Linked DNA regions of Homo sapiens. The protein of the gene in region 1 purifies or fractionates together with the protein of each later gene. This does not show direct contact. Each region holds a gene or a part of one and is shown on either strand. Other genes may lie near its edges. The genes, in order: PNKD, CIP2A, LSS and DIAPH3.

Region 1 (7,139 bases):
TCTGCACCCAGGAAAGGTCACTCAAGGGAGGTGCTCTCACCATCAGGGAGGACTCGGCCACAGGTGGCTGGGCAGTTGGGACCCTGGAAGGTCTTGCAGTCACCATTCGGGACTTTCCACATCCAGGTGTTGCCGTCAGCTGTGCCCGCCAACAGGACAGGTGCCCGAGGATGCCACTCCATCCACTGGACAGGGAGGAAGGGGCAGCAGGGAGGCCCGTCACCCCATCCCACCTAGAAGCCTGCCCCATGAGCTCCACCCAAGGTTTCCTGCCTCTGGGGTTCCGCGGGGACTTTCCAGGTAGCAGGTAGATATTCTTCCTGTGCCTTGGGGCGCATTGGCTCAGAGCTGGCTTGGCGCAATAAAGGCAGAACTGGCCTCCCAAGCTTGCACCCCCAACAACCCAAGGCCCCACAGAGCTGACTCCCGCTCTGATGATCTTACCTCCAGGTCTCCCGCTTCAAAGGACCAGACCTCCTCCTTAGTGTCCACCTGCCACACTTTCAAGAGGCCACTCATGTCCCCTGTGGCCACTAGAGTGGAGTCATGGCTGAAACCAGCACAAGTCACAGAGTCTTTATGGCCTTCAAAGAAAAGTGGGCAGAAAACAGAGGAAAAAAATAGGGTACCTGGTGCTGGGGGCATGTGATTCTGGTATCTGGCCCACTGAAAGGACCAGCTAGGAAAAAAAGAGGGGCGGGACTGAGCAGAACAGGTGCTGGAACTCACCACCACTCTAGGAACCAATACTCCCATGTCTGCTGGGAGACACTGCTGGCCCTCACTCAACCAGACCAAGTCCCAGCCTCCTATGCCTTCCCCCTTCTGTCCACTCTACACCTCTGCCCGCCTGCTCCTATACCAATGTGGCCTTCTCTGGCCTTTCCTGGATTCCCTTGGCCAATTAGTGCCTCCTGCCTCTGTGCCCAAAACACACTAGTATTCGCCCCGTGTCCCTGGGGCCCAGCACAGAGCTGGCACAAAAGAGATGTCACTAAGTGGCTGTTGGATGCACAACCTCTGCAGGTCAGCCTCCTAAGATCTCCCAAAAGAATATGACCTCTCCCAGGCCTCTACCCCAGCCCCCTCACCTGCACACTCAAAGAGCAGCTCCCCATCGCTGAGCCGCCATACGAAGGCTTTGTCATCTTCACCCCCGGTCACTGCCAAGGTATTGGTCTTGGGGTCCAGGCTCACACAAAACACAGATGCTGTCCCAAGAGATATTCCATGGGTAAGGGGACAGAGCTCCCACCTAGGGCTCTGTCCTTCACAATCTTCAGGAAACCCACCCCCTTTCACCCAAAGCGTGTCTTTCCTCCTGGAAAACACAGGTACATCCAAGTTCTTCTAAGTTTCAAGAATTGGGTTGTTAGATCCTTCCCATATTTGCCAAGCTCCCTATTTGCCAGAGTAGATCCCCTCACTGTGTGACTCCCGTCACCACCCAACACCAATGCCATGGACAAGAGGTGGGGACAGGTGCAGGGCTTACAGTTGTCAGCATGGGATGCCACCGGGGTTGGGTACAGAGCGAGGAGAGCATCACGTTAAGGGTTTTTTGTTTTTTGTTTTTTGTTTTTTGAGACAGAGTCTTGCTCTGTCGCCCAGGCTGGAGTGCAGTGGCACAATCTCAGCTCACTGCAACCTCCACCTCCCAGGTTCAAGCAATTCTCCTGCCTCAGCCCCCTGAGTAGCTGGGATTACAGGCGCCCGCCACCACAACCAGCTAATTTTTGTATTTTTAGTAGAGATGGGGTTTCATCATGTTGGTCAGGCTGGTCTCGAACTCCTAACCTTCTGATCCACCCGCCTCGGCCTCCCAAAGTGCTGGGATTACAGGCATGAGCCACCGTGCCTGGCAACAGTTTCTTACTAAGAACTAGCACTTGAGAAAGTTATATAAAATATGCTCAAAAAGATATAATTATCTCTCATTTTATTTTATTTTTTTGAGATGGAATCTTGCTCTGTCGCCCAGGCCGAAGCGCAGTGGCACAATCTCAGCTCAATGCAACCTCTGCCTCCCAGGTTCAAGTGATTCTCCTTCCTCAGCCTCCGGAGTAGCTGGGATTACAGGCACATGCCACCACACCCAGCTAATTTTTTTTTTATTTTTAGTAGAGATGAGGTTTCACCATGTCGGCCAGGCTGGTCTTGAACTCCCGACCTCAGGTGATCCACCCGCCTTGGCCTTCCAAAGTGCTGTGATTACAGGCATGAGCCACCGCACCTGGCCAATTATCTCTAATTTTATACTCACTACTTTTATTAACTTTTATCAAAGATAACTTTTTTTTTTTTTTTTTTTTTGGAGACAGACTCTCATTCTGTTGCCCAGGCTGGAGTGCAATGGCGCAGTCTTGGTCCACTGCAACCTCCGCCTCCCGGGTTCAAGCAATTCTCCTGCCTCAACCTCCCGAGGAGCTGGGACTACAGGCGCCCGCTACCACGCCCAGCTAATTTTTGTATTTTTAGTAGAGACGGGGTTTCACCATATTGGCCAGGCTGGTCTGGAACTCCCGACCTTGTGATCCGCCTGCCTGGGCCTCCTAAAGTGCTGGGATTACAGGCGTGAGCCACCATGCCCAGCCAAATTTTTGTATTTTTAGTAGAGACTGGGTTTTGCCATGTTGGCCAGGCTGGTCTCGAACTCCTGACCTCAAGTGATCCACCTGCCTCAGCCTCCTAAAGTGCTGGGATTTCAGGAGTGAGCCACCACGCCCGGCCAAAGATAACTTTTTAAAAGAAAACTAAGAGGTTAATCAAGGTTAACTGGCAAAGTAGAGGGTGTCTCGACTGATGCCAGAAGCCAAGCAATCATCCATTCTGCCACACTTTCCCACCTGTGGGCTCCTCCAGCGCAAGGCCAGCATCTTGCCCATCTCTGTGTCCCCCATAACGTTCTGTCCATGGCTGATGTTTAATGCTTACACGCCCACCTAAACTGATTTGAGGTGGATCGCCTCAAAGACCTACCTGAGTGCAATGCAAAGGTGACCTCGCTATCGTCGGGGCCCTCCATGCTGCCGACCACCCCTTCCTGGGGTTCTAGAACCCAGCCCTCTTCGTTGCCCTCTTCCTCCTCTTCTTCCTCAAAGTCCACATCTTCCATCTCCTGGGCCAGGTCATCTGCTTTGGGGAGAGGGTTAGAAGATGGGGCTCGGGAGGCGGTAAGAGGTACGGAGAGAAGCATGAGGAGGCCTGAGGCTGGGGCGGGTCATGTGGCGAGAAGGGAAGGTGGAGTCAGACACACCGGGGTCCGCGGGGGCGCGCGGGACACAGGACGGGAGGCCACGGCTGGCCAGAGACCGTGCGGTAAGGGAGGGCCAAGGGGATGATGGGAAGGGGGTGTGTGAGGGGAAGGGCCAGAGGAGGCGTCAGGGAACCCCCACCCCAGCCAGGCCTGAGAACTAAGTGTGAGGGTGGGAGTGGGGGAGGAGGGGAAGAGGGATATCGGTAGGAATGACCAGTCGGGTGTGGAGGGGAGCGGGGAAAAGCAGGAGTCAGAGGCCAGGGGTGAGCGTCTCCTGTCCCATGGCCTGAGGAGCGGCAGTTCTCACCTGGGTCCGGCGGACCGGGATCAAGTTCTACCACCTCGATAATCTCTTCATCACCATGGAAGCTTAGGGTCTCCAGTGGGGGGGTGTCAGCAGCAGCCCCGCTTTCCGATTCGGACTCCATGCGGCGCAAGCGGCGGATCCACTTCTCTGGGCCCAAACGCCTCCCAGAGTCAGCTCTGCGCGACGACGCGGAACTCGAGCCCCTCCTCCCGGCAGGAAGTAGGCGTAGGCGACTCCCCAGCAGGAAGAGCGACGGCCGTTCGGCCAATAGCTACGAAGGTTGGCTGGCCGCCTCACCAATCACAGAGCGGCATTGGAAGATGGGGCCGGGGCGTGGCGGAGAGAACCCAAACTCCGCCCCACCTGACTCCGCCCCCAACTGGAGGGAAACAAGCGAGCGCGCGCGCCTCCGGGGTCTCCTGGGAAGAGTAGTTCTCCTGGGTCCGCTCTGCGGGCTTCTGGGAGATGTAGTTTCTGGTCTGTAGGCAGGACGGAAGGAGCGGGGGAGGCCCCTTACGCAAACTACAATTCCCGGCGGGGAGCGCGGTGAAGCGGGGGTGGGATCTGAACATGGCGGCGGTGGTAGCTGCTACGGCGCTGAAGGGCCGGGGGGCGAGAAATGCCCGCGTCCTCCGGGGTAAGGAGAGGGACCCCGGGGAGGGCAGGACTGCAGAAGATCCCTTTTCTTTCACGTCCAGCCCGACGATAGCAGGAGGTCAGGGCTCTTGGTTCCTCCCCACACTTTTCTGCAAGATCTTAGAGTCTGGGGGTGCAGAGATGCTCTTTAGAGGTCACCCAGTGCATCCCCCCGCCTTCGGGTTGCTCGACACCTCCGGGGTCTTGCTGCAAGAGGGAGCTCCTAGGAAGCCTGTTGGACTCCCGCGCTCCAGGTGTTTCACACTCACCGCAGTGCAGAGGAAAGAGCCCCGGGCTTCTGGAGGTTTGAGTTCCAGCCCCGGATAATTAGCAGTTTGACCTTGGGCAAAGCAGTTTTTCTCTCAGGGCTTCAGTTTCCTCTTCCGTACAGTGCAAGGGATGGAGTAGACTATCTTTAAGGTCCCTTCCAGTGCTAACATTTGCAGTTTCAAAACCTTTTCCCGGATTTCCTTCATACGTCTTATGTGAGTCCCACTGCAGTCCTTCCCATGCTGTCGTCTGAGGAAGAACAGCGAAGCTTTTCGTCCTGGCACCAGGGTGATGAGCCCGCAGTGACGTGGAAGTGGCTTCCAAAGGTGCCACCTCGGTGGCGATTTTCCCATTTCCCTTTGGATTCTCCTTGGCACTTCTTACTTCAGACTGCAGTCACTCCCCTTCCCCAGATCTCAGCCGCTCCTCCCAAGCCCTTACTGCCCCCCACCTCCCCGCTTGCTTTCTTCTCATCTCTTCTTACTGACCTTCCTTACCTCCATCCACAGGGATTCTCGCAGGAGCCACAGCTAACAAGGCTTCTCATAACAGGACCCGGGCCCTGCAAAGCCACAGCTCCCCAGAGGGCAAGGAGGAACCTGAACCCCTATCCCCGGAGCTGGAATACATTCCCAGAAAGAGGGGCAAGAACCCCATGAAAGCTGTGGGACTGGCCTGGTGAGTTTTAACCACCCCTTTGCCCACCAACGGGGCGTGGCTTGTAGGGGAGGGCAGGACTTAGAAACTTCTCCAAGTTTCAGGTGGCGAGCTGAATCCAAAGTTGTGGGAACAGAATTGTTGGGTTCGATTGGAATCTCAGAGGGGTGGGGCAGTGGAGGTGGGAAAGTATGTGGAATTGAGAAGACAGTGGGTTTACTGTGGAGTAAGCTGAGTTGATCTGATTCAGACTTGGGTCCCTGGCCTCATCCTCCCTTTTGGGAGCTTGGAGTGAGACCCAAGTTTAAGTAAGTAGTTCGTTGAGATCATGTGAGCTTGTACTAGTTGTATAGTAGTACTCAGAAGGCGTTATGAACATTGTGATTGGGCTCTGACTCTGACCTTAATACATATTATTGACCAATATTAAAGAGAAAGGAGGAAGAAATCAACATTTTTTTCTGCATGTGAGGTGTGCCAGTACTTTGCCATGTAATGTTTTAGTGTTTGAGATAAGTATTACATCCCCATTTCACAGAGGAAGGAACTGAGACTGAGCTAGGATTCTCACCTAGTCTGTGACTCCATGCTCTTTCCCCCATACCAAAGTGCCTCCCAAGCAGTGGTTACTTAGCTTAAGAGGGGAAAACTGGGAGGGTACCTTGGCCAAGTCTCAGAGAGGGAAAGCGTCAGGGCTGCCTGGAAAATCCTGCACAGGTGCTGTTGCAGGAATGCAGGGCTCGTGCTGAGGATCAGGCTCTAGGCGGGAGGAGGAAAGAGGCAGGCAGAGACCCAGCCACACTGGGCCTTTTGTGCCATGTTTGGACTTGGCCAGGAAGTGATGGAGTTACGGGGTTTTAAGCAGGGAAGTGACAGGATCTGATTTGTGTGGGTCCCTCCAGCAGCCAGCACAGAGGATGAATAGACTATAAGAGGTATTGCAGCATTCATGCAACTGATGAAGCTAGAATGACTCCCCCCAGCTCCTCTGGCTCAGGCTTGGCCCCTCCCCAAACCCCGTGCACATCTCCCCACCCGTAGGGCCATCGGCTTCCCTTGTGGTATCCTCCTCTTCATCCTCACCAAGCGGGAAGTGGACAAGGACCGTGTGAAGCAGATGAAGGCTCGGCAGAACATGCGGTTGTCCAACACGGGCGAGTATGAGAGCCAGAGGTTCAGGGCTTCCTCCCAGAGTGCCCCGTCCCCTGATGTTGGGTCTGGGGTGCAGACCTGAGGAGCGCTGCGACCCTCCTAGGCTATTGACTGTTAAGTCCTCAGGTTTGGCCCAGATTCCAGTTCGTGCCTCTGAGGTCCACCAGAGGGCGCATGAAGCCCAGGCTGTTGCCAAACCCTACCCTGCCCCACACCAAGGAGCCAGCCAAAGGCAAATAAAGTTATTGAGTGTTTAGTAGAAAGGAACCAGGTCTGGGTTTGTGAGTCCCTTGGGATGGGAGGGGCAGAGGGTGGGGCTGGTTACTCATGTGTGCTCCCTCTCACAGAGCTCAGTGTTCCCAGCTGGATGGTGGGGCAAACCCAGAGACTTAAGTGCAACCAGCCTAGGCCCCGGGCCCTCGGGACCAAGCCCTCAGAGCTGCCGGCCAGGAGGGTGGGGTCCCGCTCAGCCTTGAAACAATAAAGAGAATCAAAGAAGGTATTCAGGGTGTGGAGGCAAAAAAAAGCACTGCTCTTTACTGAGTCCAAATGACTCGACTCTGGGCCTCAGTTTCCTCATTTGTTTTGTTTTTTGTTTTTTGTTTTTTGAGACGGAGTCTCGCTCTGTTACCCAGGCTGGAGTGCAGTGTTGTGATCGTCAGCTCACTGCAACCTCCACCTCCTGGGCTCAAGTGATCCTCCTACCTCAGCCTCCTGAGTAGCTGGGACCCCAGGTGAGTGCCACCATGCCCAGTTACTTTTTGTGTTTTTTTTTTTTTTTTGGATTTTTTTTTACTTATTTTTTTTTTTTTTTTTTGAGACAGAGTTTCACTCTTGTTGCCCAGGCTGGAGTACAATGGC
Region 2 (7,025 bases), on another chromosome or scaffold:
GATGTAATTTTGAAAACTCTTGATTTGATTAACAAACTTAAACCATTGGTTCCTGGTATGGAAGTAAGCTTCTACAAAATACTTCAGGTGAGTTTAAACTCTTCAAACATTGAAGTTTATTCATACATAAATGGTCCTAATATAAGTTTCTGTTTTAATATTCTTAATCTTTAGAAGATAATTCTCTTAGAATTGGCAATGAGAAGAAAGTTTAAAGTTGTTGTCTTAAGCAGTTATAATAGTCTCACTGCACAGTTATTTTATATACTTTCACAGGAATTGAACATAAGTGCTCATGACACTAATGTAGAGAATGTTCACAATAGTGCTGCTTCCTCAGCCTTTTCCTTTCTTGTGTTGTATTTGTATATTTCTTCATTTGTTTCTGTTGGCATTGGAGGAAGAGTGATATTTGTTTTAGGGTTTTTGTTTTTGGTTAGGGTTGATGTAGGGTATTAAGGGGATAGGGAGACAGCTGGAAGAAAAGGATTGTGATAATTAGAAGGGCTGTGCAGAAAATAGCTAACTCACAAATTTCAATGATAATAGTAGCTGAATATGATCTCTAGCTGTTATCAAAAGGCAAAGTACAACAAATTTAGTTCAAAGTTCTAACTGGCTTTTATTTATGATTCTAGAATTTGGCAGCCTCATTCTATAAAATAGAATGAATCATTCCCCTGGGCTAAGCAGAGAAGGTTGACTTTATAGACCAGAAAAGGGCTGAAGAAAGCACAAATAGGGAACTAAAAGCAGATTGGTCATTTCAAAGTTACTTTTCCTATAGAATTATAATAAAGGGGGCTTCCTTATTATACTAACTCAGGTTGACTGAAATCTCCTGGTTTTTTGGAAAACTGGCCCATTTCAAAGTGCAGTTTGATTACATGGCACTCATCCAAGTGACTCCTTTCTGGTTTGATCTGGTCTGCTAAAGCATAGTGGAGGAGACTACTCCAAAATATTAGCCTCTTAAAAACTTTGTGTAATAATATCTACAACACCTACCTTTACAACAGATGTTTAACAAAAATGAGTGAATTAAATTACTGCAGTAGCTTAACAGAGACATCTCTAGTGACTGTATAGACAGTGTAGAAGCCAAAACTGAAACCTTAGGCAGGGACCACTGGCATGTTTTGAGATTAAGGGACTGAGTTCAAATGTTGACTCTACTGGTTCTTAGTACAGGCTTGAGTAAGTTATTTCACCTCTCTCGACTTCAATTTCCTCGACTACAAACTGGAAATAATGAGGCTTACCATTGAGGGTTTTGGAGATAAAGCTCTGCTCTTATCACAGTTCTGTGACACTGGATTATACTCAAGTACCTACAAGGTACTCAATATTTTAATTATAAGGGATTTATATTTTAATATTTTCTTCACTAATATCTCAATGTATTTTTAAAGGAGTCAAACTGATGTTATGTCCATTATTTAAGATGTTTTTCATAATACAGGTTGAGCATCCCTAATTTGAAAATCTGAAATCTGAAATGCTCCAAAAAACAAAACGTTTTAAGTACCAAAATGAGGCTCAAAGGTGATACTCAAAGGAAGTGCTCACTGAAGCATTTTGGGTTTTTGGATTAGGGATGCCCAACCAGTAAGTACATGTAAATATTCTAAAATCTGAAAAAAATCAGAAATTTGAAACACTTCTGGTCCCAGACATTTTAGATATATGTTGATGACTTGGGGCTTACAATACTAATGTAAAATATTTACTGACATAAATGATTGAAGTAACTGTATTTTTTCGATCTTTAAATTTAAATGTTCTAATTTAATTTGAATTTTACTTTTTATTTTATAGCCTTAATTTGGAAGTGATTGGCCATTTTTTTCTTTTAAATGATAGCTTGGAAAAAAACATTAATTCTACACATCAGTCAGTTGTGGGTTTTTTAATCCACGAAAATATATAAGGCATAATTTTTATAGGCACATTTGAAAGCATTCAAAACCTTTGCCAGATTTTTTTAAACTGTTCATATTGATTGCATTGCAGTGTAAACAGCTATAACAAGGTATAATATATTCAAACTATATAGACTATAATATATTCAAACATTAGAAACATTTTAGAATTTGCCTAGAATTAAGATTTACATATATTTACTCACCTCCTATCTAAAAGAGCTGACATTGTTTATTCTTTCTGCTGCTTCTTTTTTGGTTTCTGATTTATTTAGGACCCACGTTTGATTACTCCTTTGGCTTTTGCTTTAACGTCAGATAATAGAGAACAAGTACAGTCTGGACTGAGAATATTATTGGAGGCTGCTCCACTGCCAGATTTTCCTGCTTTAGTGTGAGTTGTAATCATTTGCAGTGTATCTCTTGTGGTGTTGGAATACCCTGCTATGTCTCTTTAGTCCTCAGTATAGATACACAAGCAAATTAGTGAATTGAAGACTTCATTGTAATAGTAATTTTTCAAGTGATTTCTAAAAATGTTTGATTCTTATAAATGAAAAGTTCAGATGTATACTCACTCAGGGAAAAGCTAGATCCAGGCAGTTAAATGTTCTTCAGGTACTATCCCTCTATGTCTCTAGCCACTTCTTTTTAATGATAACTTCTGGACACTCTTAAGCCTACATCCTCCCAGTTTAGTTCCTCCATAGAAAGAGCTTTTCCTTCCTGACTGTTTAAGGAAAAGGTCTAAGCATTAGTCATTGACCAGGCCTGGGTTATCCATGAGAACGATGTGGACTAAAAGTTAGTTGGGATAGGAGAATAGGAGAGTTCCTAAAGAAAAAAATCTGAACTTTTATCAGAAAGTGGAAAAATGACAACCAGGCAAAATTTTCTACTATACTCGTTACTTTCAAGCAATAAGAATATTTGCAATTATGTTTGAAAAAAAATTCAGATTTCAGGGCTCTCTGAACTAAATGTCTATTAGGAGTCTGGTTTAAAATTTTTTTAAGTCATTTATATGTATGAATTTGTAAAAATGGTTTGAATAATTTGAAGTAGTTGATAAACAGGTAAGATATTCCCTGTATACCGGGATCAGCAAACTGGCCAGTGGACAGGCATCTGTTTTTGTAAATAGTTTTATTGGAATATGGCCACACCCACTCATTTTTATACTCTGTCTATGTTGCTTTCACTCTATAAAAGCAGAATTGAGTAATTGTGACAGAGACCAGATAGGTCCTTGAGTCTAAAATACTTACTATCTTGACCTATAAGAAAAAGTGCTGGTCCATGCTATATGCTATTCACTGATTTAGCGATTCCACTTTTCAGAATTAGCAATTTAGGTCATCATACCTTAAGAGTTAAAGTATGGGATGTAAGACCTAGAGAACATATAACCAAAATTCCCTTAATTTTATAATAAATATTTTTTTAACAGCAACAACAAAAATACACAGGAAGCTTTTCAAGTTACAAGTTAAAAGTGGTCTGTAAAGCTGCTCTATTTTGTGATGGCCTGCTTGCATAAACTGGTAATCTGACATGAAACAAAACCTTAAGAGCTTCAAAGGGGAATCTGCAGCCTCACTGAACATGGAAGTCTTATCCTCTGCCTCTGTGTGTGAGGCCTTCCCACCATTTTGACTGTGTCTTGGCATTCCCTGTCTTATTTGTGTTGTAAATAATTTTCTCTTTGGGCATTATCTCAGATGTCCATTTTATGCTTACTATTTAATGCCCTTATTTGACATTATCTTGGGCGTTTAATAAACTGAATGTATATTATGGATGCATTGGTAGGTAGGGTTTTTGTGTGTGTGTATTTACTTGTTTGTTTTCGAGACAGGGTCTCACTCTATCACCCAGACTGGGGTGCAGTGGTGTGATCATGACTCACTGCAGCTTCGACCTCTGGGGCTCAAGTGATATTCCCAACTCAACCCCCTGAGTAGCGGGGACCACAGGCTTGTGCCACCACAACTGCTTAATTAATTTATTTTTTTATAGAGGGGTCTCACCAGGTTGCCCAGGCTTGTCTCGAACTCTTGGACTCAAGTGATCCTCCCAAAGTGCTGCGGTTACAGGTGTGAGCCACCATGCCCAGCCTATAATAAATTAGGCTGAGTGCCTGCCATCTTGCAGTTTGCACTTTAGTTAAGAGATAAGTGAAAAAAATATTTTGTTTTGTGGTAGAAAGCGTGTTCCAGATAAAGGAACAGCTCATATGAAGGCCTGAGGTAGGAGAAAGAGAGGATTTTAAAGGGTTAGAATGGAAGTCAGGTTGGTGAAAAGTATGTACTGAGTGAGAAAGGAAAAGGACTAAGGACGTAAAGGCCAGGTGATATCACCCATGATAAGAACATTATTCTGACCAGTACCAATAACTTTGTACTTATTACAGATAATCCACACTCATAAACTAGTCTTACAATGCCTCCAAACCAGAGGTGAAGCTGTCATTATAAAAGGTTAGAAACAGAAAAGTGGGTGCTCTGGAAAATTCAGAATATTTCCCAAGACTTCATTTCATCATGGTCTCCAAGATTATTTGAAGACTTCTATTCAAAAAAAGGACCCATTCTTAAAAATTCCCTAATTCTGCACTAAGTCTGCCTTTTCTTCTATTTTCGTATAATTTTTTTTTCCTTTCTTTGACTCCCATTCAGACTTGGAGAAAGTATAGCAGCAAACAATGCCTATAGACAACAGGAAACAGAACATATACCCAGAAAAATGCCCTGGCAATCATCAAATCACAGTTTTCCAACATCAATAAAGTGTTTAACTCCTCATTTGAAAGATGGTGTTCCTGGATTGAATATTGAAGAATTAATAGAGAAACTTCAGTCTGGAATGGTGGTGAGTGAAAAAATAGCAATTATAACCTGGTACATATTAGCTATATGTCAGTCCCAATTATAACGTGTATCTAAACACTGTCAGGTACAGATTTCACTATTGAAACCTTAATATAAGAAATAACAATATTCTGGAAAATTTGGAAATAAGAAAAATCAGTCAAAATTTCAACATTTTGCCGGGTGCGGTGGCTTACGCCTGTAATCCCAGCATTTTGGGAGGCCAAGGAGGGTAGATTGCCAGAGCTGAGGAGTTCAAGACCAGCTTGGGCAATATGGCGAAACCCCGTCTCTATTAAAAATACAAAAAATTAGCTGGACGTGTTGGCTCATGCCTGTTGTCTCAGCTACTCTGAAGGCTGAGGCAGGAGAATCACTTGAACCCAGGAGGCAGAGGTTGCAGTGAGCCAAGATCATACCACTTCACTCCAACCTGGGTGACAGTGAGACCCATCTCAAAAAAAAAAAAGAAATATTTGTGACTTACCTGATGTAGCATTTGTTTTTATTTTGTTACTCATCATTAAGTTTTAATGATTTAGTTTTGAAGTAGGCATTTATTTTGTCATTGTGTCAAAATATTTTATTAAAATTTTAAGTTTTTTTACTCTTAAAATGTAGGTAAAGGATCAGATTTGTGATGTGAGAATATCTGACATAATGGATGTATATGAAATGAAACTATCCACATTAGCTGTGAGTATAAGCTTATTTTAACAATGTGTAATAAGCTTTAATAGATGTATTCCTAAAATGAAAATTAATGATATGTTTTCTTGTAGTCCAAAGAAAGCAGGCTACAAGATCTTTTGGAAACAAAAGCTCTAGCCCTTGCACAGGCTGATAGACTGATTGCTCAGCATCGCTGTCAAAGAACTCAAGCTGAAACAGAGGTGTGTAGAATATAAAGACACATCTGATTTGTAGAAAAATTAATAAGTAAAACATGCAAAATATTAGTTATGTATTTGTTACTCTAATTGAAGTAAATTCTCCTTAGCATTTGACATGCCTCCTTCCTTCTTCCTGAAATTCTGTCCTCTTTAATTTTGGTTACATCGTTACCTGATTTTTTTTTGCTACCTTGTATTATTTTCCTATGTTATTTATTTTGTACCTTTAAGTGTTGGGGACTCTGGGACTTATATTCTAAACCTTTTTCCTTTAGTTATGTGTTCTGTGGTTTCAATGGTTACCAAAATAGTAATGTTCCTAATTTTATATGTCAAGCACAGATCATTTTCCTGAGCACTATGTGCCTATGTTGCTCCATTTAAATATACAGCAAATACCACAAACTCAGCATAACCAATAATGAACTAATCACCCTTCCCTTTTTAAAATTATTCTTATGTATTCCCTCTTCTGTTTTTAGTGTTCTACAAATAAGAACCCTGGAAATCACAGTTTTTACCTCCTATAATTATTCACCAAGTCCAGTTGATTCTACCTTCTAAATATTACTCTTTTCTGCCCTATCTCTGCTTCTACCACTATTTGTTATAGGCTGGATCCTTTTCATTTTTTGTATGAATCATAGCAGAGCAATTAGTCTTCCTACCTGTAGTCTTCTACCCTCTTCTCAGATACTCTACAGCCAGTCATCTTTCCTTGGTTCTACCCCCTTCACCTAGCCGCTCCCCCAAGGATCTCTAAGGCAGTAAAATGATCCTGTCCCTCTTGTGCTGAGTATCTTTCACAGTAGCTGCTATTGCTTTCAAATATCATTAAAATTCTTTAGTTTGGCATATAAGGATTCTAACTATATAGGCCTCAATCCACATCTTTCATTTCTGCGCATTCTTTGCAGTCAGCCATGTTAGGCCACTTTGCTTTTTCTGAAACTTGACATATTCTCGTATTTCCTTGTCGTGGCACTTGACTTTCCATGTCTGGAACACCATTTCCTCTCTTCTGCCTAACTCATAATCCTTCAGATTTCAGTTAAAATATCCTCATTACCCAGAAGCCTACTCTGGTCTCCTTCCCACACGTGTTTGACGATCCTTCCTCTGTGTATCAAACCTACGCTTATCTCTTAATAACATTTTTCAAACCACGTGGAAATTCTTTTTTCCCTCACTCATGGTATCAAAGACTGCTTCTATAGCTCCAGGCCCTAGCATAGCACTTGGCACATAATAGGTGCTCAGTAAATTTGGCATTGTATTATGTACATATATAATGTATACCTTAAGAGTGAACTTACTGCAGTAATATGAAATTCCCAGCA
Region 3 (6,962 bases), on another chromosome or scaffold:
ACGTTTGATTCATCATTTGAATGAGAATAGAATTTTAGATTGGAAATCGTTCCTTTGTGTTTTTGCTTTTTTTGTTGCTGGAAATTTTTGAGATCATCTCTATTCCTGGTGTTCTCAAATTTCTCAATGACATTACTTCATATGTTGCCTCCCCATTCCCTCCCCAACCCCTGCCCAATTTATTGTGCTGGGCACTTTGTAGTCCTTTTTTCTAGTTTTTTTGTTGCTATTGAACAAATTACCCCAAATATAGTAGCTTAAATTTGAGGAGGATTCAGCTGGGCAGCTTTCTGTTGGGATCTCTCATGCAGCTGCAGTCAGGTATTGGCTGAGGTTATAGTCATCTGAAGGCTTGACTGGGTCAGTGGTCCAAGATGGATCACTTGCATGGCTGGAGGTAATGTTGCACTGTTTTCCCCAAATGTCTGGCTCATGCTGATGATGGTGCTTGTTGGAAACTGTCAATGGGTACAGTCTGCCAGCTAATAGGTTTGTTTTTCTACTAGGTCATAGTTGCCAGTGTTTGCAGGACTCTTGTGGGCCAGCTGCTCCAGAGGGATCCTCCCACTATCTCATGCTATCTGGCTAAGTGGGAGAAGTGAGCCTGGACCCACATGTGTAGACTTTAACTCAATCTGTCTGCTTTCAGTGGTCCTCAGCTATGCCTCATGCCTGAGGTAACACCTACTCTGATTCAACTACTGGAGACTTCCTCCACCCAAGTAGGAGAGGGGATCTATGGTCATACTGTTCCTCACAAAAATTTTCCACCAGTTATTCCAATTTCTGCACCTTCCTGGTATTTGCTGGCAGGAATGGTCTCTTGTTGGCTTCACCCACAAACGTAAGTCTCAACTTTCTCTAGCTAACTCAGTTATCACTTCTCCATCCATTCCCAGTCTCTATAATTTTGTTGACTTCTCTTGCTTACTAGTGTCTCCTCTCCCATTCTTTGTGGGGTTTTTTTGGTCTTTTATTACTTTATGTGAGTAGGGTTTGGGCAGGAAATGGAGGTTAATGTTTATGCTCAGTCTGCCATGTTTAACTGAAAATTTCTTTCAAAATTCTGCCATTAGGCTTTTCCCCCCATGTCTCTTTAGATAGCTCTTGTCAGTCACCAATACATTGTTTTGTTGCATCCAATAATAAATTCTGTCTTCATTTTGCAATCCCTTCAAAGCCTCAGCAAAGATCACCATGTCTTCACTTATATTATGACTTCATATTCCTCTGGTTTTCCTCCTCTCTCTGGCCATTCCTCTATACTGGAAAAGGTCGGTGCCCCAGGGCTCATTCTAGAACTTCTCTTTTTTATGTGCATTTCCTAATTCATCTTGTCCAATCTCATGATTTCAAATACTACCTGAAAGCAAATGACTCCCAAATTCCTATCTCTAGCATTATGTTCTCTCCTGAATGCCAGCCTACTCAATATTTCACTTGAATGTCTAATAAGCATCTCTAGTATAACTTGTCCCCACTTTAATCTGAATTTTCCAATCAAACTTTCCCTATTTTAGGCCAGGTGTGGTGGCTCATGCCTATAATCCCAACACTTTGGGAGGCTGAAGTGGGAGGATTCCTTGTGGCCAGGAGTTTGAGACCATCCTGGGCAACATAGCGAGACCCCGTGTCTCTACCAAACTTTAAAAAAATCAGCCAGGTGTGGTGGCACACGCCTGTAGTCCCAGCTATTCAGGAGGCTGAGCCCGGAAGATCACTTAGCCCTGGAATTTGAGGCTGCAGTGAGCTAATGATTGTGCCACTGCATTCCCACCTGGGTGACAGACTGAGATCCTGTCACTAAATAAATAAAAGACACCTCTATTTTAGTAAATGACCACCACCATATACCCAGTTGTTGAGGCCAAAATCCTCAGAGCCTTCTGTATCTGGCTTAATGAATAAGCTGGATGCAGTAGTATGTAAGCAGATAGGAACAGTGTTTTTTCTCATGACTGCCCCTAGAAGCTTAACTGTGTCAATTCTCAGACGTAGTTTACAGCTTTTTCTTTTCTTTCAGACATTAAAAAGAGCGGATTATTTTACTCATAAAAAGTCCAGTCCATTAAGATATCAAAACTCAAACTCTTATCCAGTTGAAACCTCTTCCCTCACCTAGCTTTGCCAGGTTCAGTGTGAGATTCCATCCAGGCTGAAGCCCCTTATCCCTATTCTTCATGTTTCTACATGGAGGAACTTACCTGGAGAAAAACTTCCAGCCTCTTTCTGCTTCCAGAGAAGTAGAGTGACTCATTTGATTGAATTTCAGAGAACAGATAGGGTGGAGTGTGCTCAGGCTCCTCTGGGTACTCTTTCTGGGGTCTGTGGGTTGACTGGAGGGGTGTCTTCTGGTGGGCACTCAATTGCATAGTGCTTGGTGAGGCAGTTTCATGGCCTAGAGGCTGGGGGATATGTTTGTCTGACTTAACGGGTGATTTAGTAGCTTGCCCTCTTGCTTGCAGATTTAAGCCTTGTCCTTCAAGCTAGGTTTTTAATTTGTGGCAAAGCTGATATTTTGATACCCACCCATCTTATTGCTGTGTCTTTTTCATCCGTTTCTGAACTGGGATAGGAAGAGGTGATTATCCTTGATTGTCTAAAACCCCGCTATTCCACTGTGGGGAAGGTGCCTGTGGGTATTCTTTTGTCCACTCTCTCTTCCAACTTTCTCCTCCGGCTTGCTGTGGCTCACCGCCCCTTCGAAGTTAGGCTGGGGGTAGGAATTGAGGAGTGGGTGCCGAAATGCTCACTAGGCTGGGGCAGTTGTAACTGGATGTCAGGGCTTCTGTGGGCCAGGTGAAGACATGCTGGGGTCTTCTGTGGGTCCTTGACCTGACTTACGGACCACTGGCTGCAGCCTCCAGACGTCAGCCATGTTTCCAACAGTCAGACGCCCCCTGCCCTGTTGCGCCCGGCTGTCCCTTCCAAGTTCGGTCACTCGCTCTGCCTCCATCTTCCTCTTCCCTCTGCTGCTAAGGCTTTTCACCTTTAATTTCTCCTGGGGCCACCCCCAACTCCAGCGACCCCGTGAGCAGCTGAGGCTCTACCGCGCTCGGTCCTGGCCAGCGACGCAGCCCTTCCCTGGCGGGGCTCCAGGGCTTCTGGCCCCTGTGGTCCGCCAGGTGTGGGGGCCCACGGCCTCACCGCGCCTACCCCACTCCCCCCGGCGAAGCTACGCGGCGCTCAGCTTCCCAGGGACGCCGGCGGCGCCCTCGGCTCCTCCGCTCCGCCCCGCCCTCCCCCTGGTCTCGCACTGGAGCCGACGGCCCGCGCCCACCTCACCTCAGGGCGGCCTCCCGCCCCCACCCCCGGCCCCGGCGTCCGGGCAAATCCTGCAGCGCGAGAGCAATTCCCTGCCACCCGACCTTCGCACTCGCTGTCGCTCGCTCGAGCCTCGCTCCCCACGTCCTTCCTTCCGACCCGCGGCTGGACCCTCCTCACAAATTTCTCAGAGAGGCTCACCTCAAAGCGCGGCGCACGAGGCCGGGCTCCCGGGACGCAAGCCTCTAGAGGGCGCGCGAGAGGCCCCGCCCCCGCCCTTCGGCCCCACCCACCAGCCCCGCCCCCACCCGCACCCACCAGGCCCCGCCCCCACCTCCCCACCCACCAGCCCCGCCCCCACCTCCCCACCCACCAGCCCCGCCCCTCATGCCCCGCCAATAAGGCCCCACCCGCCTCCCCCGTCCCGTCGCCTTCACCCACCATCCCCGCTCCCTCAGGCCCCGCCCCACGCCGCATGGGGCACCAAGCGCTCCACCACTGTGGTCGCCTGGCACACCCCGGGGTCACGCTCGCGGCGCTCTGATTGGTTGCGTGGGCGTCGGCCCACCTAAGCCTGAGCGCCTGCCGAGGCCTGCGCCTGCGTAGTGCGCGCGGGAGGGGCGGGAGGGGCGGGAGGGGCGGGAGGGGCGGGGCTGGGCGGCAGGTCCCGGGTGCGGACATCTGGCAGCTGGCAGTGGGCGGCGTAGAGCACTGCAGCAGCAATGACGGAGGGCACGTGAGTCCCCTCGCCCCGGGCTCCTGACGAATGCGGGGTGGTCCTAGGTGCTGAGGAGAGCGCGACTGGGGCAGTGGGCCGGCGGCCGGCGTTGGGGCGGGGCCTGGGTCGCTGATGGCCGGTGGTCCTCAGGTGTCTGCGGCGCCGAGGGGGCCCCTACAAGACCGAGCCCGCCACCGACCTCGGCCGCTGGCGACTCAACTGCGAGAGGGGCCGGCAGACGTGGACCTACCTGCAGGACGAGCGCGCCGGCCGCGAGCAGACCGGCCTGGAAGCCTACGCCCTGGGGCTGGACACCGTAAGTTGCTTCCGCGGAGCGTCAGCGAGCTCGGGACCCTGAGGGGTGAGCCGTGAGGAGCACGTTTTCTCTCAGAAAGGCGGGTGGGAGGACCCGGCCAGCGACGCCCATCCCCAAGGCGAGCGCCCACGGGAACTGCGTTCGCGGGCCCCTCCGCTTCAGCCCCTTCATCTCTAAACCACGCATAGGAGACTCCTAATGTTTTATTTTTTAGCACCTTATTTTGAGATAATTTTTGACTTATAGGAGAGTTGCAAAGATAGTTGTAACTTTGTTTTTATTCACAAAAAGTGTTTGGATCCACTGTCTTAGTTGTGTGCATTGTAAGAGATTTTGGTCGTCAGAGTCTGCAGTGTAAACAGGGTCTCCTGCCGAGCCCCGGCCACCGAGGGAAAGGCTGTGCCGCCCCTTGGGCCCTCTTTGAGAGGCCCGAGTCCCAGGCCCAGGTCGGCACCCGTGCCCCACCCTACAGTCTGGGTGCCTGGTTTATTCCAGACATCTTGGAGAAGTTGTGAAGAATACATGACTGGCAAATAAAGCAACGAAAATGTGCAGCTGTTCTTTTACTTTGCTGAGGTGTGATGCTCTCATCAAAGAGTTTCAGACTTTTGATGGAAACAGCTGAAACTTTTAAAGTAATTTACATTCACTGTTTTGACTTGGGCTGTATGTGAAGAGGGTTCCTCTGGCCGGGCAACAGTCCCGTCAGCTATCTCTTTTTTTTTTTTTCGATCTCTTTGCAGAAGAATTACTTTAAGGACTTGCCCAAAGCCCACACCGCCTTTGAGGGGGCTCTGAACGGGATGACATTTTACGTGGGGCTGCAGGCTGAGGATGGGCACTGGACGGGTGATTATGGTGGCCCACTTTTCCTCCTGCCAGGTAGGAGTATGCTGCCCCAGCCTGATGGTATGGCCACCCTGGATCACCCTTGGGATCCTGGCCCAGCCTGGTCTAGGGTTTTGATGAAGCAGGTGAAAATCCAGGGGCTCACAAGAAAAGGGCTGGCAAACTCTGCCCTATGTCAGAGTCGTCCTGCTATTGGTCTAGGGGATCAGCTAGCCTTGCCAGTGTAGGGTGACAGGCTCTCTGATAAGAGAAGCAAGTGGTTCTCTAGGGCTCTGTGTTGCCTTGAGGGAGGAGGAAGGTGGGCTTTGAAGTCTCAGTACAGGATGGGATGGACATTCCAGGTGGAAGGCCCAGCCTATGCCAAGGGGCTGTAGGTGGGCAGAGTGGTGGGTGGGGAGCTGATATCTGCTGTGAACTTCCTCGGGGCTATTGCAGGAGAGCTTCAGGTTCAGGCTGGTGAGTAGGAGGAGCATAGCAGTTGGACTGCCTGGGTATTGAACTGATTTGGCTACACAAGACTATTTTGCATCCTGGGAGTGTTTCTCTACAGAAATCCTCAGCCTTGTAAAATGGGAAATTCCCTCCTATGAATTTATGCAATAGGACTTTTTTCCCTAGTGACTTGTAATCACATTGTTTCAATGACGTGAATTCCTACATAAATAGGTTTTGTTTCTGTGATAACTCTTACTGATACATCATTTTCTTTTACTACGCTGACTTTGTAATAGATAGAAAGTCCTTATATACCTTTGTTGCCTTTCTTTTTAAAACATCTCTTACCTGTGTCTATTCATTTACTCATCCAAATTGCCTTTATCCTGATTTTGTCCCAGACTTGAAATGAAGTTGCAATAGGCTTATATGTTAGTTTGGGAAGAGTTGGCCTTTAACGTTAAAAACAGTTCCATGGTGTTTACTGTAGGCCAAGCCCTGCTCAAGGCCTGTTCTTCTTTTAGTCCTTAGAATAAGCCTAATGAGATACATTAGAAAGCTGAGGCACATTTATTCCAGGTAACCAGACTAGCAGGAGGAGCACTGGGATCCCCATCTCTGCTTTGACTTCTAGCCCTGCTGCCACCTGGACTGTACAGCATTGAGTTTTTCTGTCCTGGGATTTGAGGGCCTGTCCTTAGGGGAAGTCAAGGTGCTCTTCTTCCCTTGGCCCCATCAGGGCCTGTTTAGACTGTTCTCAGGGCTCGTGGTAAGGCAATGACATAGAGTTGGTCAGGAGATGGGTCAGCCCCACTTTGCCTCTGTAGCCTGACCTGTGACAGGATTGGAATCAGGTTTGGTCATGTGCACAGTGTCAGGCATGCAGTGGTGCTTGGTCAGTGGGGATTACTGTGTTGTTTGTTCTTGCTGCTTTGGCTCTGGGCTTAGCTGGCTGGGACCCTTCCTGTGGGCTGGCTGTGAGTTGGAGTTTTTTTGTATTTTTTTTTTTTTTTTGAGACAGCGTTCGCTCTTGTTCCCCAGGCTGGAGTGCAATGGCACAATTTTGGCTCGTTGCAGCCTCTGCCTCCTGGGTCCAAGTGATTCTCCTGCCTCAGCCTCCTGTAGGGTCCAGCCCCACAGGGTCGGTAGGTTTTTCTCCCTGTGTGCGGAGATGAGAGATTGTAGAAATAAAGACACAAGACAGAGAGATGAAAGAAAAGACAGCTGGGCCCGGGGGACCACTACCACCAAGACGTGGAAACCGGTAGTGGCCCTGAATGCCAGGCTGCGCTGATATTTATTGGATACAAGACAAAGGGGCAGGGTAAGGAGTGTGAGCCATCTCCAATGATAGGTAAGGTCACATGGGTCACGTGTCCA
Region 4 (6,845 bases), on another chromosome or scaffold:
AAGCAGGGGTTTCCATTATACCTTCTTTGGGCTGGATTAATTTGGAGAGAGGCACAAAGAACTCAGGAAACACATTTTCTGGTTTATCATGAAGGAGATTTTAAAGGATATAGATAAACAGCCAGATGACAAGATACCTAGGGTGAGGTCTGGAAGGGCCCTGAATGAGCTTCTATCCCTGTGGAGTTGAAGTGCACCACCCTCCCAGAATGTGGATGAGTTCCTGTTCACCTTCCTGTCAGCCTCCATGTGTTCAGCTCTCTGAACCCTGCGTTTTATGTAGACTTCATTGGTTGTTCATGATTGAAGCATGGATAATTGTGTCGAAATGTGATTGCACAAAAGGGTATGCTCTAAACCCAGCAAGGCCTGTCTGTTCTGTTCAGATTTTCCTGGTCTCTCTGTGCAGCATTCCTTTCTCTAGAGCGTGGGGCAGGACTCTCTCTGGCCTGAGGGTCTTATGACCCACCATCAGATTAGATTCCTGTCTTGGGCAGGTGAAAGGAGAGCAGAAGTTCCCAGAGAGAGATTCTGTTCCCTGAGGCCTACTTCTGAGGCCTAAAGCACTCTCACATTATAACAAAAGGCTGTAACAAGAGTTATGAAACTTATGAACTAGGAACCATGGGTGAAAATCTGTATCTATATATATATACATATATAGATAATCATAATATGGCAGAAGTGTTCAAGAAATATCTTTGTAGGTGTATGTTTGGGCTTTTCCAGGGAGACATCTAGACATGGAATTGCAGGGTCATAGGTACACATACCTTCACCTTTACTAGGTATTACCAAGTTTTTGTCCAAAGTGCCTATACCTGTTTTGCACTTCCACTATCTATCTAGGAATTCCCAACTTGGCCCAAACTTGGAAACATGGAACTTTGTAGTATTTGCCAATTTAATGAGGGTAAATGACATCTCATTTAAAAAAATTGATTAAGGATAATCACTTCCTTCCCTCAGCTTTCAACAACTTTCTCATATGGTCCATAAGAGTGAGCCATCAAAAGAAAGGCATTAATAATTTTCTGGATGTTGACACTGAACAGAAATGATAAAGGGAAGAAATATATTCCTAGATTCCAAGCTTTTCCAGGCCTTTTTTTTCACCTTCAACTTTCTATTTCCATGACTATTGACTCACTGGGGTGTATCATCTCGCTGGGTGATCAAAATGAGGGTCAGTGCATGCTGTTATGAGGTTTAAGTATGTTGGGGCACACATATAAAATGTACTTTAAAAAACATAAAACTTATACAAAGATATTTTCACTAGTACACTGAAGTTCCAGTGCATTTCTATGAGAAAAAATTCAGAGTGCTGTACGTAAACTTGAAAATTAATTATCATGGCTCCTGTTTACTTATATTTAGTACCTTCTATGTGGCAAAGACATGAGAAAGAAAGGAGCAGTCCCTGACATCAGGGAACTAGTTTGACACTTATAGCTAAGCCTCAGTGTTTTTAGAAACTGGCCTGACACTCATAGCTAGGCCATGTTGTTCTCCTGATGAACAGCATCTCACAGAACAGCAATATCAGACAGGGTCACTCTGTGACCATGATGAAGTGAGACAAAACAAGATCACTTCCATGTTTTGTCTAAGCACAGACAATAACAAGGTCAGTATGCAAATCAGAAAATATCAATGTTAAATAAATTCATGGGAAATGATTATAGACTAACCTTAGTTTTGGACTAATCTGCTGCACTAGGCTCCGGCAGACCAGACCAAAGCAGAATGGTCCCTCATGCGTATTGCCACATAATCAAAAGCAACTCTGAAACCAGCCAGTTTTCCAAAAAGCAGGAAATTCATAGCACCCAATCAGAAGGGGCCAAGTTTATCTGAGCTGGTATGCTAAGAAAGTTCCCCTGTTTTAACCCTATAAGGAAAGTAACTTTGAAACAACTCATCTGCTTCTCATTCCTTATTTCTGTTCTCTAGCTTTTTTCTGCCTATAAAGCCAACCTCCTCTGCTTAGCTCATTGGAACAGATTCTATTTTAGAGAATGAAGTTTTGCCTATTCTGGAATTGCAAATAAAAGCCAATTAGATCTTTAATTTGTTTTGTCTTTCAAAATCAAACATTCCCCTCTCTCCATGATATGGATGACTAATGCTTGTCAGTTACAGCTTTAGGCTTGTCTTTTAGCCTGCCATCCTCCTAGATAAGATAATCACTGAACTGTCTCCACTTCCTGAAGGCACTTAATCTTGAGCAACCCTTCCCACCTCTTTCCACGGAGTCTTTCCCAAATCACCTAATCAAAGCCCAAATCCTTTAAGTGCTTTCTAATACCATTTACCTAAGACACTTCATGGCTCCCCATAGTGCATGTTCTCCCTCCCTGAGTAATAATCCCAACTTCTTCAACTACAGTATTCCTGTAGGAGCATTGACAAAACTCTAAGGGCTTTACATATGCTATGTTATTTAGGCCTGAAAATGCCCCTCTTTCATAGGTATTAGTATAATTACCCCCCTTTTGTAGATGAAGCAGCAAAGAAAGTTAAACGTCATCTCCGGTATCAAATAGCTAGTAAATGGCAGGAATAAAATCTGTATCTGGGTCTGTCATCAAGATATAAGGAACTACTTGTAGTTCTCCTGACCTTGCTGTTCTCCTGTAAGTTTCCCTAAAGATTATGTGCTCTTTGAGGACAGAGCTGTAGAGTCTGGCACAGTAAAACAAATATTAAAAAAGAAAAGCTGTAGTGTGAAGACTTACTGAGAACTAAGGCTCATTTTTTGAACCTCTGTGCCAAACTCCTCAGAGTACCTAGAGTTGTTTCTTGTACCAAAATCAATACTGCATGTTTCCGAGTCTTGGCCTACACCACCTCCATATAATCAGAAGACAGATATCTTAAAGGAATAGTTCCAAGGAAAAGCTCATTTTTAAAGAGGGTATATTGATGTGTTGAGAAAACGGTGTTTGCCTTGTAGCTTGACCTTGGGTTTACACAACAAACTCTTTTGCATGGTTTCAGTTCAAGGCCCTTTGTTATGTGACCTTAAAGTTTCTTCACCTCTATGCTTTCTTGGCCTTGCTCCTGCCTGGAATGGAATGCCTTTTAAATGAATGCCCTGCCACTGTTTCCTGCCTAGTGAAAACCTATGCAGCTTTCCTTTTACCTTTCCAGATCCACTCCTTCAGATTTAATAACTTCCCTTTTTGTTCTCAAGGAACTTCTAAAACAACTGCTATAGACATTTACATTCCTTGGTTAATTGTGTTAGGGTTTGGAAACTACAGGAGACTGTGAGCTCCTGAAGGGCTCAGCCTAGCCTAGCTCTGTCTGATTTTGGGTGGACCCCTCTGCCACCCCAGAGCGAGCACTTAGGCAGGAAATATGTCCAGAAGGCTTCCTTTTGGAGCGTCGTGGGCCCCGTCGTTTCATCCTGCCTAGTACCCCTTCCAGCACCGTACCCAGTCCCAGAACTACTTTTTCCAGCCCCAGACGTGCAAGGAGAGGGCTAGCAGATGGTTTTATATCCCAGCGCTGCTCAAATGGTGGCGCAGGGCCTGTCTCGCCCACCTTCCAGTTCTGCTGGAACCCTATCTGCAAATCCAAAGAAATCCAGGCCGATGACTTCCTCCACGGTCCCCGGCGCTTCTCCAAATCTGACGCCACTCTGCGTCCTTAAGGTGAGCGGCCTGGACCGCCGGAAGGGTTGAGCGGCTGCATAGACAGGCCGCAAGGCCAATCATGTTTCGCAGTGCCCGGAAGGGGCGGTGCCTCAGCGTGTCATTGATCCGGCGGCGCGGGATTGGCCAGTCCCGGGCCAACACGGGTGGCGGGAGTTTTCAGATGTGTTGGCTGCGGCCCCGACTTCAGCGGTTGGGCTAGGCTGTGCTGACTGTTTGGGTGGCGGACCCCGGGAGTAAAACCTGTTGTCGATCCCTCAGCTTCCAGCTTGCGGCTTGCTGAGTGGCCACCTTCTTTCCGGTCCCCGGAGCTGCGGGGAAAGATGGAACGGCACCAGCCGCGGCTGCACCACCCGGCCCAAGGCTCAGCCGCTGGGACTCCCTACCCTTCCTCAGCCTCTCTCCGCGGCTGCCGGGAAAGCAAGATGCCGCGCAGGAAGGGCCCCCAACACCCTCCGCCGCCCAGTGGCCCCGAGGAGCCTGGGGAGAAGCGCCCCAAGTTTGTGAGTATCGCCTGGAGCTAGGGTGGGGCCGCTCCCGCCCCGCCGTAGGGCTGACTGCCGAGGGTGGGCCCACAAGAACTTGGGGACCAAGTTTTATTCTAGAGATCCAGAGGTGCCAAAGATCATAGATTGACAACGACCGGGTCTAGTTGTAGTTGGATCCTGTGACAAATGCCCAGATCTTTGTGTTGCCCCCAAATTTCTTAACGCTGATGTGAAAAGCAGTTCAAACGTGTATATGTATTGACGTCATCTAGGTGGACATTGCATTTTTTAAGTCGAAGTTCTCCCTTCCTCCCTAGTGTAAGAGGGTATAAGATATATCAAAATGAACTTTTAGGTGACAGGTTTTTTTTCTGCTTATTATTTTAATAAGAACTTTTAATTACATATAAGAACTTTTAAGGTAGATATAATTTTCCAAGTTGAAACAGCTAGTTTTAGAACTTGGCGGGTGGTGTGGTCACTGCTAAAGAATGTTTTGCTTAGCTTGGAAAGAATTCTAAATATTTGAAACTTGCTATTCTGGTTTGCTTGTGTTTAACACTTAAGGAAAGTGTCATGATTAACACCTTGTCTTTTCGTTGGTGTCAACTAGTGAAAGTATAGGCAGTGATGATTATTTTGGGGTTTGTGTGTGTAAATAAATCACATAGAGGGTTGATAGATTTGGGATGAGTCCAACAGAATTGAAATTTCACATTGACCACTCCACCATTTTCCTTAGGAATATGGAAAAACTGTGTGTGTGTGTGTGTGTGTGTGTGTGTGTGTGTGAGAGAGAGAGAGAGAGAGAGAGAGAGTACAGCATTTGCCTTATGTGGGCAAGTAAAAATTGTGAGAAATTTAAGTCATGATTCACAAATTAAGGGAATAATGGTTTGTGAACCAGTTGCTAACTATAACATTTAGTTAAAAATAATAGTTGAATAAGACTGAGAGCCCATATTCTGATACATGAGATATATCAGAATACTGAAAATGAGAAACAGCATAGATTAATTGAAAATGAGGAACAGCATAGATTAATTATGCCAAATTAAGTATCAAAATGGTCATAGGAATAGTGACATTTTGCAGAAGGATCAAGTATGGACTTGATCATTATCTTGACAAATCTGAAGAATGAATAGGACAGAGTTAACTTCCCAATGAAAGATTTTTGCCTAATGTGAGAAGAATCCACTAAGGCAATGACTTTTCTTCCTTTTATAGTCTACTCTCTGGGTTAATAATCTTATTTTATTTTGTTTTAACTTCTGTGGTCCAGAATACAGGAGGTGTTATTTTCTGTGACTCATTCCCAGCAAGGAGGTCATGAAAACAGGATCTAAATTAGTATTTATGTTAAGTTTCATTGAAGGATTTCATCATTTGGTTTCCAGTCTCTGTGCTGTTTTTCATTCTTATGTATGTCACATTGACCATCTCAGCATGCCATTTGTTAAATGGATTCTCATAAAGATGAAATGACATCTAAAAGATAACACTCTTAAGCTGTAAAGGTAAAAAACACATCTAAAACACTGTGTTTTTGGGTGGGAGTCTGGTATGAATCATGACTTCCAGTTAATTTAGAAGTAATTTGGACTCTTGGTACTTTGAAACTAATTTAGGTTCTTGCTTATATGGTAATTTCTTTAGTTATATCTTCCAGTTCATTAATTTTGTTATCAGCTATGTCTAATCTGCTACTTTTCTGAATATTTGATTTTAGCAATTATTTTTTATTTTAATAAGTTCCATTTGCTTATTTTTCAAATCTGTCTGGGCATTCTTGATAGTCCTTTGTTTCTTATTCATTTATTTCTTTAGACATTTCCTACTTGATTGTTCTTATTCTTTATTTGACAGTTCTGCTGTTTGCAACCTGGGCTGTCTACATTGACTCAGATTCATGATGGCTTGCTCTCTTTCTTGTGTGTATTTATCTTTGTAAGCTCATTGCTTTATCTTCACCTGTAGGATTCCAGAGATGCTTTTCTTTGGAGATAGTTTGAGTTTGTCTGCCAAGGAGCCTGGGCATGCTACTGATTTTGGACCACCTTCCTGTTGAACTGGAAATCTTAACATGGGCAGAAGTTCCAGGCACAGCTCTACTCTGTTCCTGTACTAAAGTTCAGTATCCCAGTCTCAAGACTGCTTCCTGAGCAGCTCTTCCCAGTTTGCCTACCTTTCACTGCTCTTGATTGCACACCAGTAACTCTTGTTTTTTGGATGGAGAGGGATCTTTGAGACCATCAAAGTTCCCAGCAATGCCTCAGAAAGTAATTGTACTTGTAGGTGTCAAGTCAGTCACTGTTCTTGCAGATGTCAAGTTAGTTCTTGGCTTTTTCTTGATTGGATGAAGTGACGTTATCCTAAATCTTTTCAGGTCACCCAGTCATTATCTGAGCCTGGGGCAGCTGTTTTTGATGGGAACAAGTAATATAGGTTGGTGATGTGATGGATAGGAGTAATTTAGGTGGCCAGTGTTTTGCACACTTCTGCAAAGCAGCAAGCGAGTAGTAGAATGGAGTGGTAGACTGGTCACTCCCTCCTATCTTAGTGTAAGAAAGCAGGAGCTCTGGTACCCGCTGAAATCTTGTTTTACTTTGAGTCCTGTTAAAGTTGGCAAATTCTTGTTTTCTACCAAATGTATAGTTGCGGGCTTCAAGTCACTTGTGAGTTGGGTAAAAGA

The links.
Region 2: the proteins of PNKD (region 1) and CIP2A purify together in Homo sapiens (affinity purification with mass spectrometry; 2 studies listed by BioGRID and IntAct, with this or other methods). This does not show direct contact.
Region 3: the proteins of PNKD (region 1) and LSS purify together in Homo sapiens (affinity purification with mass spectrometry; 3 studies listed by BioGRID and IntAct, with this or other methods). This does not show direct contact.
Region 4: the proteins of PNKD (region 1) and DIAPH3 purify together in Homo sapiens (affinity purification with mass spectrometry; 2 studies listed by BioGRID and IntAct, with this or other methods). This does not show direct contact.

What each region holds. Positions count from the first base shown.
Region 1 is NC_000002.12:218,266,403-218,273,541, forward strand, and holds the start of PNKD (probable thioesterase PNKD isoform 1 precursor), read left to right. Parts: upstream 1-4,116; 5' UTR 4,117-4,133; coding exon 4,134-4,200; intron 4,201-4,978; coding exon 4,979-5,147; intron 5,148-6,167; coding exon of another isoform or gene 6,168-6,360; exon of another isoform or gene 6,361-6,545; intron 6,546-7,139. Other genes in the region: AAMP (angio-associated migratory cell protein), read right to left, coding at 41-185, 445-584, 1,092-1,211, 2,980-3,135, 3,564-3,684. UniProt on the Homo sapiens protein: Probable thioesterase that may play a role in cellular detoxification processes; it likely acts on a yet-unknown alpha-hydroxythioester substrate.
Region 2 is NC_000003.12:108,558,417-108,565,441, reverse strand, and holds part of CIP2A (protein CIP2A), read left to right. Parts: coding exon 1-87; intron 88-2,197; coding exon 2,198-2,316; intron 2,317-4,600; coding exon 4,601-4,793; intron 4,794-5,413; coding exon 5,414-5,488; intron 5,489-5,574; coding exon 5,575-5,685; intron 5,686-7,025.
Region 3 is NC_000021.9:46,225,770-46,232,731, reverse strand, and holds the start of LSS (lanosterol synthase), read left to right. Parts: upstream 1-3,957; 5' UTR 3,958-3,986; coding exon 3,987-4,000; exon of another isoform or gene 4,001-4,132; coding exon 4,133-4,298; intron 4,299-5,041; coding exon 5,042-5,180; intron 5,181-6,962. UniProt on the Homo sapiens protein: Key enzyme in the cholesterol biosynthesis pathway. Catalyzes the cyclization of (S)-2,3 oxidosqualene to lanosterol, a reaction that forms the sterol nucleus.
Region 4 is NC_000013.11:60,160,907-60,167,751, reverse strand, and holds the start of DIAPH3 (protein diaphanous homolog 3), read left to right. Parts: upstream 1-3,823; 5' UTR 3,824-3,985; coding exon 3,986-4,165; intron 4,166-6,845. UniProt on the Homo sapiens protein: Actin nucleation and elongation factor required for the assembly of F-actin structures, such as actin cables and stress fibers. Required for cytokinesis, stress fiber formation and transcriptional activation of the serum response factor.